Linked DNA regions of Homo sapiens. The protein of the gene in region 3 purifies or fractionates together with the protein of the main gene of each other region. This does not show direct contact. Each region holds a gene or a part of one and is shown on either strand. Other genes may lie near its edges. The genes, in order: CDCA7, LPGAT1, ATCAY, POPDC2 and GLS.

Evidence for each region.
Region 1: the proteins of ATCAY (region 3) and CDCA7 purify together in Homo sapiens (co-immunoprecipitation; one large-scale study listed by IntAct). This does not show direct contact.
Region 2: the proteins of ATCAY (region 3) and LPGAT1 purify together in Homo sapiens (co-immunoprecipitation; one large-scale study listed by IntAct). This does not show direct contact.
Region 4: the proteins of ATCAY (region 3) and POPDC2 purify together in Homo sapiens (co-immunoprecipitation; one large-scale study listed by IntAct). This does not show direct contact.
Region 5: the proteins of ATCAY (region 3) and GLS purify together in Homo sapiens (affinity purification with western blotting, with the first as the bait; one study listed by BioGRID). This does not show direct contact.

What each region holds. Positions count from the first base shown.
Region 1 is NC_000002.12:173,353,555-173,357,679, forward strand, and holds the start of CDCA7 (cell division cycle-associated protein 7), read left to right. Parts: upstream 1-1,317; 5' UTR 1,318-1,409; coding exon 1,410-1,430; intron 1,431-4,125. UniProt on the Homo sapiens protein: Participates in MYC-mediated cell transformation and apoptosis; induces anchorage-independent growth and clonogenicity in lymphoblastoid cells. Insufficient to induce tumorigenicity when overexpressed but contributes to MYC-mediated tumorigenesis.
Region 2 is NC_000001.11:211,792,755-211,796,270, forward strand, and holds part of LPGAT1 (acyl-CoA:lysophosphatidylglycerol acyltransferase 1), read right to left. Parts: intron 437-3,516; coding exon 318-436; intron 1-317. UniProt on the Homo sapiens protein: Lysophospholipid acyltransferase involved in fatty acyl chain remodeling of glycerophospholipids in the endoplasmic reticulum membrane.
Region 3 is NC_000019.10:3,908,179-3,911,694, reverse strand, and holds part of ATCAY (caytaxin), read right to left. Parts: intron 3,428-3,516; coding exon 3,325-3,427; intron 2,210-3,324; coding exon 2,078-2,209; intron 893-2,077; coding exon 806-892; intron 1-805.
Region 4 is NC_000003.12:119,657,776-119,662,015, reverse strand, and holds the start of POPDC2 (popeye domain-containing protein 2), read left to right. Parts: upstream 1-1,426; 5' UTR 1,427-1,592; coding exon 1,593-2,083; intron 2,084-4,240. UniProt on the Homo sapiens protein: Important for the maintenance of cardiac function.
Region 5 is NC_000002.12:190,908,312-190,911,827, reverse strand, and holds part of GLS (glutaminase kidney isoform, mitochondrial isoform 1 precursor), read right to left. Parts: intron 1,566-3,516; coding exon 1,507-1,565; intron 1-1,506. UniProt on the Homo sapiens protein: Catalyzes the first reaction in the primary pathway for the renal catabolism of glutamine. Plays a role in maintaining acid-base homeostasis. Regulates the levels of the neurotransmitter glutamate, the main excitatory neurotransmitter in the brain.

The DNA.
Region 1 (4,125 bases), on a different chromosome or scaffold from region 3:
TCATATATTTAGCTTTAGTGGCACAAAATTATATTCCCAAATGTTTATTCATTCAACAAATACTTACTGAGGGCCCTGTAATTCCGTAATTTCACCACCCACCGATAGCCTCTCCTCCTGGCACTCACCTTCTAGACCTTGAGCTCTTTGTCCCTTGCACAGTGGCAGAGTGATTACTGGGTAGGTATATTTAAGAAAGGCTGGAAGACTCCTTCCAATCCATTGTCCTCGGGCATTATTTACTTGCTCACAGTTTTTGTATTCAGTACACCAAGAGAGGAACACAGTATGTCCATGCACTCTCTTACTGCAAAGGAATTAATTATTCCCCAGAGAAAAGTTTTGAAATGAGGGGGAAATGCGAATGTTTTCATTTCAAGCGCTTGTTTTAAATGTTAAGAGTATAATTAGTGTCTTCTAAAGAAACTAAATTTACTTTTTCTTGTAGAAGCAAGTTTTGCTCTTCACGCACACAAAAAGCCTCGCTTTATTTCATTTTTTCGTTGTAATGCCAAGTTTGGTTAAAAGGGCAATGAAAAGTTTTCTCGTTCGCACTGACTCAGGGTAGTTCTCAATTCTGAAGACAGAGAAGATCATCAAGCCACAATTGTTCAATCTTTAGTTTCAATCCCCAACAGATAATCGTTAAAGGTTAACTATACTATAGACGTCTTCATCAAGCTGCTGCGGCTTTTCTTCTACTTTGAAAACCACAAGTAAACAAGTCGGCTTCCTGTGCTTTTTGGAAAGAAAGATCAGGATTTAACTCATTTTATTGCTTCAGATAATGGTGTGGTTCCCAGATAAGAGGTGCTACATCCAGGGGCGGTGAACTCGATTATGAAGGGTGGAGTTCGTGCTGGATTCTATGATTTTTTAAATCTTGTAAACCGCACGCAGCAATGAAAGTGCTAAACGCCATGGTGCGTGACCCGCGCCACCCTCACGCTGCTCTCCTTTACCCCCCAGACTCCACTTTTCCTCCGCCACCACGAAAATTCTTGCAAATCAGACAGCTAACCCCGGGGCAATACGAACCATTTTCGCGCCACTCGCTCAGGACCGCGCAGCTGCACAAGGAGAGTGGTCCCCGTAGCCCCTAAAGCCCCCCTTTCTCAAAGGGGATTTTAGGAGTGCCCAAGGCTATCCTTTGAGGTCAGAATATATAGGGGGGTCGTGTTTTTTCCAGGGGGCCACCTAGTCTTGCGCCATGTCTGGCCGTTACCACAGCTTGCAGGACCTGTGTCCCAACGCGGGAAAGACAGCCCGAGCCCCGCCCCTCCGGGCCCGGGTCGGCGCGCCCAGCCTGCCAGCCGCGCTGCTGCTGCTCCTCCTGCTGTGGGACCGCTGACCGCGCGGCTGCTCCGCTCTCCCCGCTCCAAGCGCCGATCTGGGCACCCGCCACCAGCATGGACGCTCGCCGCGTGCCGGTGAGGGCTGGGCGGGCGAACCCGAGGGGCGGGCGCGGTGGGTGCTGGACGCAGGCGGGCGCGGGCCGACCCTCTCCAACTCCGCAGCCTAGCGCTGCCTTAACTGGTGGCCTGCCTAGGCGTTGCCCGCTTGGGCAAGCCCCTGATTTTGTGCACCTGGGATAACTGAGGGCCATGGGGACGTTCCTGCGTGGCGTGCGCACCCGAAGTGCGGGCGGCGTGGAGACTTGAGTCGTTTGCAGGATGGCTAGCAGCGCTGGAAAGCCCTAGGCACGTGCGTCCGCCAAAGGCCGGACAGCGGCCGGGAGCGCTGGCCGGTCCCGATTTTGCCTGCCAGGCAGAGCCAGCCTGCCTGCCCCCTGGGAGGTTGTCCCGCAGCGGCCCAGCCCTTTCCCGCACACAACTCGGAGCCAGTGCGTGGCTCGCCGCGTCTATACCCGCGCTCAGTGGGTGGCCCTTGGGCGCGCACCCCGCCCGGCAAGAGACGCGTCCGCTTCTAACCGCTGAGGGCCAGCGCGTCTGAGGTTTAAGGTCTTGCGAACCGGTCTCCTAGAACTTGGGCTGCGCACGCAGTGTGAAGCGACCGTAGTCCCGGGCGGTGGTTAAGTGCATTTAAAGGGCTTGGTGGGTCAAAGCGTTCGCCGACCATTTGCTCGTTTCCTACTTCCTCCACCCCAACCCCCAACCCCCCACCCCCCACCCCCCAGCCTTACTCTTAGCTGCAGGACGTTGCTCTGAGTGGAACGTTACTTTTTGCTCTAACGGAAGCCAGAACGTAGGGTCGGGCTCCTGGAGAGGGTAGAAGAGTGGGGGTTGGGTGAAACGGAAGACAATGACATGTTTAAAATAAATATCAGGGGTTAGGGACCCTCGCGGGGGTGGGTGCGATGGGGCGTGGTTTCAGAGCTGAGTCGCCGCCCCGGTGGAGCTGGGCATTGGCTTTCCGGATGAAGAAAACCATGTGTAGCTGGTCTTGGAACCTGACATGCCTGAGTTCAAATCTGAGCCACCATGGGACTTGAGTAATCCATTTCGCTTTCCTGAGCCTCAGTTTCCTCATTGGCTAAGTGAGAATAACGATAGCACCTTTGTTGCAAAGAATTAAACCTGACGTGAAAGTGTACTTAACATAGTGCCTGGCACGAAAAACGCCTACTATAAATGGTATTAGTTATTACTTACCTGCCAAAGAAGTTCATCTCCGTCTTGACTATTTGCCTTGCTGCTTTTTTGTGGCTTTTCCTCCAAAGATACGTTTGCCTGGTAAATAACTCTTGGCTTGTGCTGACTTGTTAAAGCTCAGCCTGTATTTCTCGGACAGCTTCCAATAGAATGCCGCCTTTGAGGCTGTCTGGGGCCTCTGACTGCTTGCAGGTAGATTGATGAGTAAAGGGTGGTAATTCCTGCAGTAATGCGATGAACACTGCTGCTTAAGAAGATGGCAGACTTGAGTTCTCCTTCCTGCCCCTGTGATCTTGCAGTCTATTACACCTTCCTGGGGCCTTGAATATCCTCATCTGGAAAATGGGATCTGAGATCCTTTTCAGCTCCCAACATTCATTGTGTCCCAGGCTGGAGTGCAGTGGCACAGTCACGGCTCACTGCAGCCTACCGGGCTCAAGCAGTCTTCCCACCTCAGCCTCCCAAGTAACTGGGATTACATGTACGCACCGCCACATCCGGCTGATTTTTGTGTTTTTAGTAGAGACGGGGTTTCACCATATTCCCCACGCTGGTCTCGAACTCGTGGGCTCAAGTGATCCTCCCACCTTGGCTTCCCAAAGCGCTGAGATTACAGGTGTGAGCCACCCCCCTACACATACACCTAACCTTTATATTTAGTAGCTCTACCTTTTACACGTTGTCCTGCCTTGTTAAGAGGGCAAAAGACAAAAACTTCCTAAGATGATTGAACGGAGTTTACTTAGGGGTATAGGGATGTTGGGAGTGCCATCATCATGAAAATAACTTTATCTGCAAGAGACTGAAATGCGTAATGTTAGGCCAAGAAGGAGGGCAAGAATGTTCTGGTCACCTGACATCTTACATCTTAGCATATTTTGTAGAATCTATACCAGAGCTTGCCCTTTCAAAGTTTTCAGTGTAAGGAATCACTTCTGCTATTCCATGGCCCCATTTAAGGAATAAAAACACAGGACCTAATGCAACACTTAGGAAATCTCGTTAAATATTAAGAAATGACAAACCACTATCCTTTTTTTATACAAGATAGATGCCAATTACATTTTCTGAGAGCAGTGCCAGGCTGTTCAGTATTTATGAATGAATGAAGCATTTCTATGTAAGTAATTTGCACTTTATAAAAGGACTTTTAAAAACTTAAGTCTTGTATAGCAAAGGGACAGCAACAAGAACTGAATGACAGCCTCAAGTAATAGAGTGCTAAAATGGAATCCGGTATCCCACCTGCATTTGGAGTGCTATTTGATCTTTAACTTGGCTCCTTGTACCATTTGTTGAAGCGTTTGATGTATTTGCTTTGTAAGGACTTCTGTGGAAATCACGATAGCCCTCTTGATTGGAAAGGGGCCTGCTTGGAAGCCTGCCATCTTGAAGTAGAGGTCCTGCCCAGTTTTTGTAGTTTGTGAAATTAGCATCACAGTACATAGCCCAAAGCTTACATAAAAATACCTCATTAGCTTGATTTTGGCTGAGGGAGAAAAATCTTTCTCCC
Region 2 (3,516 bases), on a different chromosome or scaffold from region 3:
AGGCTGGAGTACAGTGGCGTGATCTCGGCTCACTGCAATTTCTGCCTCCCGGGTTCAAGCAATTCTCTTGCCTCAGCCTCCCGAGTAACTGGGACTACAGGTGCACACCACCACGCCCAGCTAATTTCTGTATTTTTAGTAGAGATGGGGTTTCACCCTGTTGTCCTGGATGGCCTCGATCTCTTGACCTCATGATCCACCCACCTCAGCCTCCCAAAGTGCTGGGATTACAGACATGAGCCACCATGCCCGGCCAAATGGATTCCTTTTTAACCTTCCTTTCTGGATGTCTATCTACTGCCTTCAGGGTAGCTTACCAGTCCTTTGTCCTGGAGGCACATCATCAGTGTGCACACATCTCCTGTTGCCTGATGATTCACCAACATCACTGCTTCATCTTTTGAAACTGCTTTAATATCTTCTCCCCATTCCATCACTGTAAGAACAAAAAAGTTTCAAAGCTGTCATTTTAAAGATTTTTATATTATCACAAACCTTATATTAGAAAAAATGATGTATATTAATGATGATATGTCACCTAGCTAAAACATCCGAAAGTTTAGAACTAAGTTTATTTCCTGTGCAAATCAGAATGTTAATATAACTTTTATAGAGCCCCCAAATATACATTAAAATATAAAATTATCATTATTTATTTATTTATTTATTTATTTATTTATTTATTTATTTATATTTGAGACAGAGTCTAGCTCTGTCACCCAGGCTGGAGTGTAGTGGTGCGATCTTGGCTCACTGCAACCTCTACCTCCCGGGTTCAAGCAATTCTCCTGCCTCAGCCTCCCAAGTAGCTGGGATTACAGGTGCACACCACCACGCCCAGCTGATTTTTGTATTTTTAGTAGAGATGGGGTTTCACCATATTGGCCAGGCTGGTCTCAAACTCTTGACCTCAAGTGATCCACCTGCCTTGGCCTCCCAAAGTGCTGAGATTACAGGCGTGAGCCACTGTGCCCAGCTATGGTCATACCTTTGATCTAGAAGTTCTATTTCCTAGAATTTATCCTACAGAAACTTGTTCAAATAAGCAAAGATATATGTATAAAGAATGTTTATCACAACTTAAATGTTCACCAACAAGGGAATGGACAAGAAAATTATGATGTAATAGGAGAGTATAAACCCGTTAAAATAATGGAGGATATCTCTTATTCACTAACCCAAAAAAGATGTATTATCAACTAACAAAGCAAATCACAAAACAGTAAATATAGCATGATCCCATCTTTTTAAAGCAGGAATACCATCCATGTGTTGTTCAATGCACTGAAAAACGTCTAGAAAAATAAATTTCAAACTGTTAATACCGATCATCAATGAGAGGTGGTTCCCAACCCTTCAGATTCTATTTTATAAGAAAACATTCAGACATAATAATGCATACTTTCACCTTAAAATAATAAAACTAATACAAATGCCAAATTATTTGAAGTTATCAGATGAAAAGTCACTGCGCCAAAATCTATACGTACATTCTAAGGGAAACAGTGGTATTTCTATGTAGTTATGCCTCATTTCATTTTATATTTATTTTTAACTTTTTTGAGACAGGATCTTGCTCTGTTACCTTGGCTGGAGTGCAATGGTGCAATCACAATGGCTCACTGCAGCTTCAAGCTCCCTGGGCTCAGTGACCCTCCTACCTCAGCCTCCCAAGTAGCTGGGACTATACAGGTGCATGTCACCAAGTCCAGCTAACTTTTGTATTTTTTTTGTAGACACAGGGTTTTGCCATGTTGCCCAGGCTGATCTCAAACTCCTGGGCTCAAGCAATCCACCGGCTTCAGCCTCTCAAAGTATTGACATTACAGACATGAGCCACTGCACTCGGCCACCTCATTTTACAGTAAATTTATGTCAAGCCTCAGTTTTCAAACATCAGAATTCTGCAAAGAATCTTCTAGCATTTTTTGATATGAATTATCAAAGGCCAATTCTACATTAGTATTCTTTACCCTAACCTTATCTCACTCACTGCTGCAAGGAAAGAATTCAAGCCACCTGTGTGTAAAAGCTCAGGATGAAATAGGGATAGGGAGACCTGTTTAGAAGCCAATTTTGCACTATATTTCAAAATTAATAAATGCACAAACCTTTTTACCTAGGAATTCTACTTCTAGAAATGCATCCTACAGATATACTCATTTATGTGCAAAATGACATGTACACAAGGCTACTCACTGCAGCTTTGATTGTAAAAGCAAAGATGAAAACAACTAGAAAGAGAAGCTAACTCAAATTCATAGAAATGGTGGTTGCCAGGGGCTGGGGGAGGGGGAAATTGTTGTTTAATGAGTACAGTGTTTCAGTTTTACAAGATGGAAAAGTTTTAGATATCGGTTCCACAACAATGTGAATATACTTAACAAGACTGAACTGTACACTTGAAAAATTAAGATGGTGAATTTTATGTTAGCGTATTTTACCACAATTAAAAACATTTTTAAGGGAGACTACCTAAATAAATTATATCTATGCAATGGAATATTATGCAAACATAGCACTTATGTACTAAGATGAAATGATATACTTTAAGTAATAAAAGCAAAGTGTAGAATAGGATGATGGATGCCACTAGTTGTGTTTTTTGTTTGTTTGGTTTTTTTGTTTTTGAGACGGAGTTTCGCTCTTGTTGCCCAGGCTGGAGTGCAATGGCGTGATCTCAGCTCACCGCAACCTCCGACTCCCAGGTTCAAGCGATTCTCCTGCCTCAGCCTCCCAAGTAGCTGGGATTACAGGCATGCGCCACCACGCCCGGCTAATCTTGTATTTTTAGTAGAGACGGGGTTTCTCCATGTTGGTCAGGCTGGTCTTCAACTCCCAACCTCAGGTGATCCGCCCACCTCGGCCTCCCAACGTGCTGAGACTACAGGCCTGAGCCACCGCGCCCAGCCTAGTTATGTTTTTAAAAAGGACAGAGAATATACTAACCAAATGAAAACTCCCCATATGCCCCTGTTGACAACCCTCCAATGGAGACACACGGACATACAAACACACAAACACACACACACATGCACAACATTCTTTCATTAATACAATCTTCATTCAATAAATCAGCATCAGGCATGGTTAGGTGTTGTGGATATAAAATAAGTAAGAACATTTCAAGTATTATTCTAAAGTGAACAGCAGTTAAAACTCAAGAAAAGTCTAGCTTGGTTCTATAAATAGTGGGCTATTAAGAGGTAATGTGGACAGTTTTCTGGCTCTCCATCTGTATTAATAGATGTCTCATCACCAAATAGTCCTTTAACGCAATCTGTGCTACATGAGTGGAAAATACTAGATACCTAGGCCCATGCAGTGGGAAGGCATATATGTCAATATAACTGCAAATAAGAATAAGTTTTTACATAAAATATATCTTACCTGTTTGCTTTATATAAATCAGATAAATCTAGTAAGTGTGACTGGTTTAAATATGAAAACATAAATTGAATTTGGAACCCTCTGTACTGGGTTGAACAGTATACTCCAAAAATTCATGTCCCCCCA
Region 3 (3,516 bases):
AGGGCATTTAACATGCCTAATTTTATTTCACTTGATCTGTTTTACTATATGTTTAATATAGTAACTATATATGATATACATTATAGAATATATGTAGTTTTAAATTTTAAATTTATTAGTCATATTATTTATTTATTTATACATACATATATATATATTTTATTTTTAGAGACAGGGTTGTTTTGCTCTGTCTCCCAGGCTGGAGTGCAGTGGAGTGATCATAGCTCACTGCAGCCTCTACCTCCTGGGCTCAAGTGATCCTCCTGCCTCAGCCTCCTGAGTAGCTGGGACTACAGGCATGTGATGCCATGCATGACTGATTTTCTTTTGAGACAGGGTCTCACTCTGTCATCCAGGCTGGAGTACAGTGGCTCGATCACGGCTCATTGCAGCCTTGATCTCCTGGGCTCAAGCCATCCTCCCACGTGAGCCTCCCAAGTAGCTGAAACTACAGGTGTGCACCACCACGTCCTGCTAATTTTTGTATTTTTTGTAGAGATGGGGGTTTTGCTATGTTGCTCAGGCTGGCCTCAAACGATCCTCCCACCTCAGCCTTCTGAGTAGCTGGGATTACAGGTGTCAGCCACTGTGCCTGGCTGTGTGCAATTTAAAACTGTTTAAAGCAATAATATGTATTCATCATAGAGAAGCTGGAACATGCACATCAAACACACACATGGATGCACACACACACAGATGCACACACGCACACACGTGCACACATGCACACACAAATGCATGCATACACACACGCACACACGCACACTGAGGCCACTGGACTTGGGTTGCAGCCTCCCCGTCTCACCTGATGAAAGGGCGAGAGATGGCCAGCACAGTCCGAATGAACCACGAGGGGTGGACGATGATCAAGGACTTCAGGTTTTTCCGCAACCTGTGTGGGGCCGCAAAGGAAGCAAGATGGGCTCCTGGGGCGAGCCCTGGGGAGGGAGGAGCTGGGTGGGACGGGAGAGCCACAAGCAAGCATTCGTCACTCTGCTCATTCCACGTGTGGTCTCCAGGTACCTGTCAAATCCCTGCCCCCATCCAAGACATGGGGGTCCTATGGTGGGATAAAGACACACCCTTTGAGTCCCTAAGACCCTCAGGTGGATGAGGTAGGTAGAGACCCCATGGTGCAGAGCAGGTGAACCAGGTTGGTAGTTATTTGAGCAGCCAAGATTGTATTTTCACCACCTAATGCCCTAGGAGGGACCAGCCTGTCCTTGGAGCCTCCCTCCACTAACCTGGGTGCAAGGATGGATTGGCTGGCTCAATTTTAATGTCACTCTGAGGCTATTTACAATAACTCAGGGGTGGAAGCAACCCATGTCCATCAAGAGATGAATGGAATGGACAAACCAAATGTGGTATGTCCATACAGTGGAATATTATGCAGCCATGAAAAGGAAGGAGGCTCTGACACAGGCTACAATGTGGATGCACCCTGAGGACATCACACTCAGTGAGGAAAGCCAGACACAAAAGGACAAATCCTGTGTGATTCCAGTCCTAGGAGGTCCCTAGAGTCATCAGATTTACAGAGACAGAAAGTAGGATGGGGGGTGCCGGAGCCTGGGGAGAAGGAATAGGGAGTGAGTGTTTCATGGGGACAGAGTCTCGCTCTGTTGCCCAGGCTGAAGTGCAGTGGCATGATCTCGGCTCACTGCAACCTCCACCTCCTGGGTTCAAGTGATTCTCCTGCCTCAGCTTCCCAAGTAGCTGGGACTACAGGCATGCGCCACCACGCCCAGCTAATTTTTGAATTTTTTTAGTAGAGATGGGGTTTCACTATATGTTGGCCGGGCTGGTCTTGAACTCCTGACCTCAGGTGATCCACCCACCTTGGCCTCCCAAAGTGCTGGGATTAGAGGTGTGAGCCCCCTTGCCCGGCCTAAAAGTTTTTCTGTAGAGACAGCGTCTTGCTGCGTTGCCCAGGCTGGTCTCAAACTCCTGGGCTCAAGGGACCTTCCCACCTCAGCCTCCCGAAGTGCTGGGATTCCAGGTGTGAGCCACCATGTCCAGCCCCCTGTGTGATTTTCATGCCCCCACTGTGCTTCCTGAGGCATCCCCACCTCACCTCCGGTCGATCATCTGGTAGCACTTCTTCAGCCAGCCGATTCCAGGCATCCTCCGCCGGGGCGTGGCACCGTTCAGGTACACGATCATGTAGTCCTCAGCCACCAGGAGCTCTAAGCTGCTGATGACGTACCTGCTCACGGGGCACAGAAGGCAGGGACCCAACATGGAGGGGTCCAGGGTCAGGACACCTGCGGTGCCGACCCTGCCTGCCTCCACTCCTGCCGCTGGCTGGGTCAGCCCCACTGGTCCAGGTGTTGTCTGCTGTCCTGGCGGACTGCAGGGTGGGAGAGGACGTGGATGATCCCAGCACACTCCACATGAGTGTCAGCGGGCATCCTCATAGGGCAGTTACTCTTTTATTGAGTCGTTTTTTTTTTTTGAGACGGAATCTCGCTCTGTTGCCCAGGCTAGAGTGCAGTGGTGCGATCTCGGCTCACTGCAAGCTCCGCCTCCCAGGTTCACGCCATTCTCCTGCCACAGCCTCCCTAGTAGCTGGGATTACAGGCGCCTGCCACCGAGCCCAGCTAAATTGTAGTTTTAGTAGAGGCAGGATTTCACTATGTTGGCCAGGCTGGTCTCTAGGCCTTGCTTTTTTTTTTTTTTTTTTTTTTTGAGACAGGTTCTCACTCTGTCACCCAGGCTGGAGTGCAGTGGTGCCATCTCAGAGCGGGAAGAGGAGGAGGAAGGGGAAGAGGATGGGGAGGAGGAGGATGGGGAGGGGGAGGAGAGGGAAGGAGAGGAAGATGAGGGAAGGAGGAGAAGGAGGAGGAAGGGGGGAGAAAGGGGAGGAAGAGAAAGAGGATGAGGTGGAGAAAGGGGAGGAAGAGGAGGAGAAGGAAGAGGGGGGAGGAGGAGAGGGAAGGGGAAGAGGGGGAGGAGGAGAGGGAAGGGGAGGAGGAGGAGAAAAGGGAGGAGGAGGGGGGAGGAAGAAGGGGAGGAGAAGGAGGAGAAGAAAGGGGAAGGGGGAGGAAGAAGGGGAGGAGGAGGAGGACAGTGAGGAGGAGGGGAAGGAGGAGGAAGAGGAGGAGGAGGAGGACGGGGAGGAGAACAGGGTGGCCCAGAGGGAAGGCCACTGTGAGCCTCAGGGCCAGCAGGGACTCAGATCAAGGTCTGTGGCCACCACGCCCTTCCCTGGTGCCAGGCAGGCTTCCTAGGGCCACAATGCAATCCTTGCAGCCTGGTGCCCCTGTGGCCAGGGAGGCATCAGAGCTGGCCCGAGGCTGCTCGCCGCGGGCGGGGACTCACAGGAAGAGGTTCTCCATGATGTAGTGGTAGTCGGGGAGGCTGCTGTCTGGAAGGAAGCAGGCTGCGAAGACGATGATGGCGTTGAGGCCTTCGCCGTAGTACCCTGAGGAGAGGCAGCCGATCGGCAACGTCAGAGTCCTCTCCCAGCCCTGAGCTGCCTCCCGCGCACCACCCACCACGTCCCGGTGCCCA
Region 4 (4,240 bases), on a different chromosome or scaffold from region 3:
CGCCACCACGCCCAGCTAATTTTTATACTTTTAGTAGAGACAGGGTTTCCACCATGTTGGCCAGGCTGGTCTCGAACTCCAGCCTCACTCAGGTGATCCACCCGCCTCAGCCTCCCAAAGTGCTGCGATTATAGGCGTAAGCCACTGTGCCCAACTAACATTTCTTAGCCTAATGTTTGCATACTCCAGCTTTATCTCTTGGCAGCCCAAAGTAGATTCCTAGGTTCAACCAGAAGTTCCTTGAAAATTGTCAGACTTCATAGAAGTGTGGAGTTGGGAGTCATGGATCTAGTACTGTACTTCCACTTACTGGCAAACCCCTTGGGACAGAGTATTAAGTTTGACAGACTTGGGTTCAAATCCTGGCTCTGCCACTTAGACCATCTGTGGGAGCTTGTTACCTCTCTGAGCCTCAGTTTCTTCCAGATCTAGAAGGAGAATAATATTTATTTTGAAGGATTGTTGTCACAACTAACTTATAAGTGTATAAAATGCCTAATCTAGGTTTGGCACTTCATGGGTGTTTAATAGGTGGGAATTATAATTTGGAAGCACCGGAGTGGGTGGGATGATGATCTGGGCAATGTATTATTATTTGTTTACTATTACCAGATCCAGATATATGCAGGGGAAAGCCAGCTTAGAATTCAAAAAGCCACTTTACATAGCTACTTTTGTTAAATGGATGTCAAATAAATACATAATGATATTTGCAGTGTGACTTAATAAAGGCCTTCAGGGGGTTTTCCAGCTTTCACTGTTAGGATTTTTTCTGATAATAGTCCCATACTTTCCTACTCTGATGTGTCCTCACTCAGAAGCACTGTCTGGCTCTCCCCAAAGGGAGCTCGGGACAGTTTCCTGCCTGAGGTGTTCAGGTGAATTCTGTGCTCACTTTTCCTTTCTCTCTCCTTGTCTGTCTCTCTGACCCTGAGGTCTTATCTTGTCCTCTGGGAGGTATGTTAAGTGCTCTGCCAGGCTGCCTGTGCCTGGCCTGTTTTTTCTCACTGCCAGTACCTCTTGGATTCCAATTCCAAACATGGTATCCATCTGGGGTCACCCTTTCTTCCGGTGCCAAGAGAGAACACATTCCAAATGGAACACAAATGTGCCTCCCATGCTGGCTCTCCTCATTCTGCTTGGGAAAAACAGAGAGCAGGATGTGGCCGCATCATCCCACGCTGCTGGACTTTTCAGTCCTGTAGTGCTACTTTCCCTTGGGACTATTTAGGTTTTTCTGCTAAGAACCAAATTTGAAGACTCCCAAGAAACATGGAACCAAGGAAGCTTGCCAGAGCTCTGCAGGGAGAGCCAGAGCCTTGCTGAGACAGCGGGGGTGGTGGGGAGGAGAGAGGGGGGGAGAGGGGGAGAGAGAGAGAGAGAGAGAAAGAGGTTTTTAAATTCTCCATGAAGTGTACTATGTTCCATCATTCCTTCCCAAAGCCACCGGAAGCATTCCTTCTAGGAAAGGTGGAGTCGGTAGTGAGAAGCCGGAGGTGAGAAGACCCCTGAGCGGATGGATTCATTCATTTTCTGAATTTCCTATGTGAGGACAGTATTAGAGCCCAGTGAGGCTTTGAGAGGCCCCAAAGATGAGCGCCAACAGCAGCAGAGTGGGCCAGCTTCTCTTGCAGGGTTCAGCGTGCATTAGGTGGAAGCAGGATGTGGAAGGGGCTGTCTACCACCTAGCCAACTGCCTCTTACTCCTGGGCTTCATGGGGGGCAGTGGGGTGTATGGATGCTTCTATCTTTTTGGCTTCCTGAGTGCAGGTTACCTGTGCTGCGTGCTGTGGGGCTGGTTCAGTGCCTGTGGCCTGGACATTGTTCTTTGGAGCTTCCTGCTGGCTGTGGTCTGCCTGCTCCAGCTGGCACACCTGGTATACCGCCTGCGTGAGGACACCCTCCCTGAGGAGTTTGACCTCCTCTACAAGACGCTGTGCCTGCCCTTGCAGGTGCCCCTACAGACATACAAGGAGATTGTTCACTGCTGCGAGGAGCAGGTCTTAACTCTGGCCACTGAACAGACCTATGCTGTGGAGGGTGAGACACCCATCAACCGCCTGTCCCTGCTGCTCTCTGGCCGGTAAGCTACTCTATCCATTGCCCAGAATTTCTTTCCCCAGCCCACACTTCTCATTTCCTAGTGTGTCCCTTTCCATTTCATGTCCCTTTCCATTTCGTGTCCCCTTCCATTGAGGGAAGGATGTGACAAGTCAAACAAACCAAAATAGATTTTTCTAAGAGTGGGGTTGCTTCCTCTTTCTTGGCATTTTCCAAGAAGAAACCAGTTCATGAGGCATCTTGGTTGGCAAGAATGATTGTATGTGCACTTGCTGCTGGAAGGTGTGCAGTGCGTGTGTCTTGAGCCTGGGCCTTAAATAACCCCTCTACCATCACCACACACATATCAGTGTGTCATGCCTAAGCTGCAGCAATATCTCTGTAAGCTTTGAAAAACTAACATTTCAATAAGGTTAATCTGTTCCTTACTCAAATTCAACATTTGCTAAGCACCAACTGTATTCAGGGAACAATGCCAGAAATGGGAGGTCGGGATAGCGGGGTGGTTCTCATAACCCCTGTTCCCTGCCAAGGCATCAAGCAAACAGCCCCACTTGTGTTTGGGGTAGCTGTATGTAGCCAGGTAGGGAGAGTGAATACCCCTTGCCCACCTTTCCATTTCCAGTTGTTCTATTGAGGTTCTTGAAGACTAAGAAGTCAAGTACAGTACTGTAAATCTGAGGGCCCAACAATGGGAGAAGAGAAGTGATACACCTATCTCATCAAGGCTTTTGTGGAAGCACCGCCTCTTTTGGAGAAGGCTGACAGTCAGATATGGGCAGAAATGGTCTTAGTCAGGATCAGTGTATGCCCAGTCAACCTGGATGTGAATGTTGGGCATTGATTTCTTCTGAGAAAACATCACGGGGCTCTGTGCTACACACTTAGTAGGCAATTGTGGATTTTTTTATACTGCCCTAGTGGCTCTTGAGCCCCACAACCCCCACTCCACCAGCTTTCTTGAGACCAGGAGAATGTGATAGAAAAGGTAAGATGGCAATTAGAAGGCTCCAATTCCAAGAAAAAAAAAAAAAAAAAGCAAATCCAGATAATACTGCCAACCACACAATGGAGAAAAAAGTTTGACAATGATGCTAATGGTACTACAACTACCACTAATAGTAATAATACGTGTTTGTGTATTCATTTATAGAACCTGAAGTATCATGTATATATGTTTTGATTTTGTTTGAACTCAGAGGTCCTGGATAGAGTGAGCTAGGAGGGGAGACATTTTGTGAGGGTACATTTCATTTCATTTATTGGTGAACTGAAAGTGTAAACCAATGCGATTATTTGTAAACAGATATAGATGTAAATACAAATACATATAACTATTGTGAAAATGTTTGCACCTATAGTTCCATGCTTAAAGACAATTTAGGGAACTTGCTCATTCATGAGACCCATGATGTTATAGCTCGTCTGTTCAAAGGAGGAAATTGAGAGCAGCAGAAGTGCTCCCTCCAGTGTAGGGTGCCCATTTGCTGGAAGCATGTATGGTTACTGTATAGTTCAGTTAGGATAGATTTACTGTGAACTTGTATAAGATCACTTCCCAGTGAAGGGGAGAGGGGGGCTTGCCCTTGGTGTAGCTTTTCCTGGTATACTTAGCATCAAAAGGCTGAGTCAGAAATTAGACAATTTTGATTTTTTTTTTTCCTGCCTTTCAAGGTTTGGAGTAAGAGTTTTGTTATCTTTCAGTGTCACCCTGTCTCAGCTTTGCTGAGCTGGACATAGAGGAAAAGGCTTCTAGTCTATGACTGGGCTCTAGTTTTAAAGGAGAATCACTGAACCTTGGGCTGGTTACAGTAAGGGACCAAACATCTCAAAGCAGCAGACAAGAACTTTGTGCCAGGAAGTGGGGACTCTTGTGCAGACTTCCACATCTCACATGCACACTGTTCTCTAGAGTCCTTCACTCAAACCTCAGAAGTCTTTTTGTTTTGTTTTAATAAAGGAAACCAATCTCTTTCAAAACTCAGAGAGGGAAAGTGACTTTCTCAAAGTCTATCACCCTGTTAAGCAGCGCTTAACTTAGACGTTTCTCTCATATAAAATTCAAAACACAAACTTCCATATATACAACCCCCTGAGCAGGCAACTAACTATCTAAGCTATTCATTTAGGAGAAGATCATCCATCTTCCAGTAGATCAAGAAGGAAGAAGAAACAGATG
Region 5 (3,516 bases), on a different chromosome or scaffold from region 3:
GAGTAGTGAACACCTGAAAGTTTATGTAAAATTATGGTATGTGGATATTTTTCTGGGAAGAAACACTTTTGGTGTTTTTGTCATCAAGCATTAACACATACATTATAGTATGTGTTTCCTTATTTCTACTTTAAGTTACTTGTTCAAATCTAAGCAATTATTAATGAGGCTTTTCTCTCATCACAGCATTTATTGAATTTTCTTATAAGGACCCATTTACTTTTGCATATCCCACACTACAAAGTAAGCTACCTAAAGCTAGGACTGTGCCTTGCAAATAATCGCATTTTCAAGTTTCTTTCAGCTCAAACTGACAGCTTTCTCCATATCCTATTACAATTAGTTACATTTTAAAAACACTTGGCTATAACATCTACTTCATTAGAGTTATAAGAATTAAATGGGCCAATACTTTCAAAGAATTTGCCTTGAAGTAACAAGTAAACATATAGATTCTTAAGATACCAGCCTTCTATTTTAAAAGCTTTTTCTCACAGATATAAAACTCTTAAAAGTTAAGAAAGGCTTTCTAGTATACAAGTTAGATGAAATTTTGTGAACTGGGCCAAGGGTATCATTTATACTCAAATATCCTTCATGTAACCAGGGTACCTTATCCACAGTAATGCATTTACAAGGCCATGTAGTTATGCTTTCCTCTAACTTGGAATAGATAGGCACAGATTTACCAAAGAAGTATACAAATGTTCCAAACATAAATAAAATTTATTTAAATATAAATAAAATTTATAATTAGAAATTAAAAATCTGAAACATCTAAAATCGTGTGGTAGATTTAAAAATCTATCACACAGGAACCATTTTCAAATACTTATTTTAAAATACTAGATCTTCCAATTATTAACGCAAACCAAACACTAAAAAAAAAAAAAACCCTTACAATGCAAATTTCAAAGCATAAGAAAATATAACTCCATAATTGGAATAAGCCTTATTTATTTTAATTATGGCATGATTTAAGTAAAACCAAATGAAACAAGTTCCAATAAAAACTGTGATTTCAGCTCATGAGAGTATCAAAGACTTGAGAATATTTGAGGGTAAATGTACTTTGTCTTAAGTACCAGAACATTTGTTCCCACATATACTAATAACAAATATACAGTAAAATGCCTTTAATTCTATTTATAACTGTTCATTCTGGAAGAACCAAAAGGAAACGAAAGGAAAAATATCAAAACTTTAAAAAAAAAAAAAAAGCCTCTATGCCTTTCTTCAGCAGACTTTAAATATTTTCCAGATCTTCAAGTCAAGAGTAAATGACTGTTGGAATTTACAATGAGTCATCTGTTTTAATTTTGCCTTGAAATGACTACATCATTTATTTTGAAATAAAGATCCTAACACTATACCATAAGACAAATTTCTTAACACCAAGAGAAAATTTTTCATAATTCTACATAAATAATCCCAGATTCATCTTTATGCCTTAGCTGTTAAAAAAAAAAAGTTTTACTAGGTTAAAATGAAACATCAACATTTTACCTTTATTAGTGAAGTCACAACAATTGCTCCAGCATTTACCATAGGATTATGTGGTTTATCTGTAAAATATAAAAGCAATACCATTATTTCAAATACTTAAACACTTGAGTAATATTACTATACTAAAAATGACCTTGGAAAAAGCACAGCTAACGTACTCAATTTTGCTTTTTTCTTAGTGCTTTATTTTTATCTTTATATACAAGCACATACACAGAAGGATTTCAAAACACAAACAAGTGATTTACATAGAATAATAAAATTATAAGGGATTTTTTTTTTAAGAGCCAAAGTTTCAGACTGTCGCCCAGGCTGAAGTGCAGTGGCACAATCATGGCTCACTGAAGCCTTGACCTCCCAGGCTTAAGTGATCCTCCAGCCTCAGACTCCAAAGAAGCTGGGACCACAGGCACATACCACACCTGGCTAATGTTTTATTTTCTGTAGAGACAGGATCTCCCTATGTTGCCCAGGCTGGACTCAAACTCCAGGACTCAAGCAATCCTCCCGCCTTGGCCTCCCAAAGTGCTGGGATTATAGGCATGAGCCACCATGCACAGCCTATAGGGGATATTTTTAGGCTTTCTGTATTTCCTGACAATAAAGGTATATTTGTATTTCTTATATAATTTTAAAGTTACTTAAAACTTTACATTAATCCAAACTCCTATTTCTTCTCCTAATTCTTACAATAAATAAGAATTTCAAAACTCAACTGATTATATTCTCATTCACTGCATGACACAAGCACCAAAAATAAAATCTTGGGGACAGTGAAAACATCTATTTACAAGCGAACCTCAACATCTTAATTTATCTACCTGGTGGTTACCAGAAGTGGGGGAGGGGGGAGAAGGGATTGCCAGATGTTGGTCAAAGGACACATAATTTCAGTTACACAGGGGGAATAAGTTCAAGAGATCTATTTTATAACATGATATAATTAATAACAAGTATTATATGTACTTGAAAATTGTTAAGAAAGCATACTTTGTCTTCTCATTACAAATAAATATATGAAGTAATGTATGTTACTTTGATTTAGCCATTCCACAATGCATATATATTTCAAATCACTATGTTGTATACCATATACACAATTTTTATCTGTCAATTAAAAATAAATAAATAAAAAGAAAAATATCCTACATTTTGGGTGTATTCATAATGCCAAGTTTCAAAAGTTAAAATAAAATCTTTGTGTTATATCTGATTATTACAATCAAGATTTGCCTATCCCAAATTAGTTTAAATTAGTTTAAATTAGTATAAATTAGTTTATACTTTTATTTGTATGGATGTTTATTATCTGTCATTTCAGAGCTTTTGACATTATCAGGCTTAGACTCTACAGTCCTAGAAGACTGCTAATCTATGTACTCCAAATGGTATCACATAAATGTGAGTATTAAATATTTTCCAAATGATAAATACTCTGCAAATGCTACATATACTACACTCAAGATGTCTTAAAGAACACTAAATCATTTTAAGGCATGACAGCCCAATTTTCAGATGTATGTAATTGCTCATTCTGCCTTTGGCTCAAAAGCCAGACATCTGAACATCCGGAAACCCGCCAGAGAGAATGTAACACACCACCAGCCTAACTGCAGTATAAAACCTCGGCCTAAGACCTATGACCGTGAAATTTTCTTGCTTCCCTGCTCTGTCTTAAGGTAAGATGGAGTTGATGGGTTTAATTTAGAATTTTTAATTTAAAAAAGTTTTGAATGGCAGAAATAACCTACAACACTAATAAAGGCTATCATTTAAAGTAACGAAATATCAGAGCGTGTTATACTGACAAAATGGACATGGGTGACATCTGAAATTTATGAACATGCTTTAAACTATAATGCAAAAAAAGATCAATTTTAACAAGTATTTATTTTCCCCAAAGGCAATAAAATACACAGCATTCTTTCATATTATATCAAAAGAAGCTTTTCAAGCTGCTAAGCATATGAACCTTACAAGGGTTTTGTTCACAGGTGAGGCTGAGGCAAA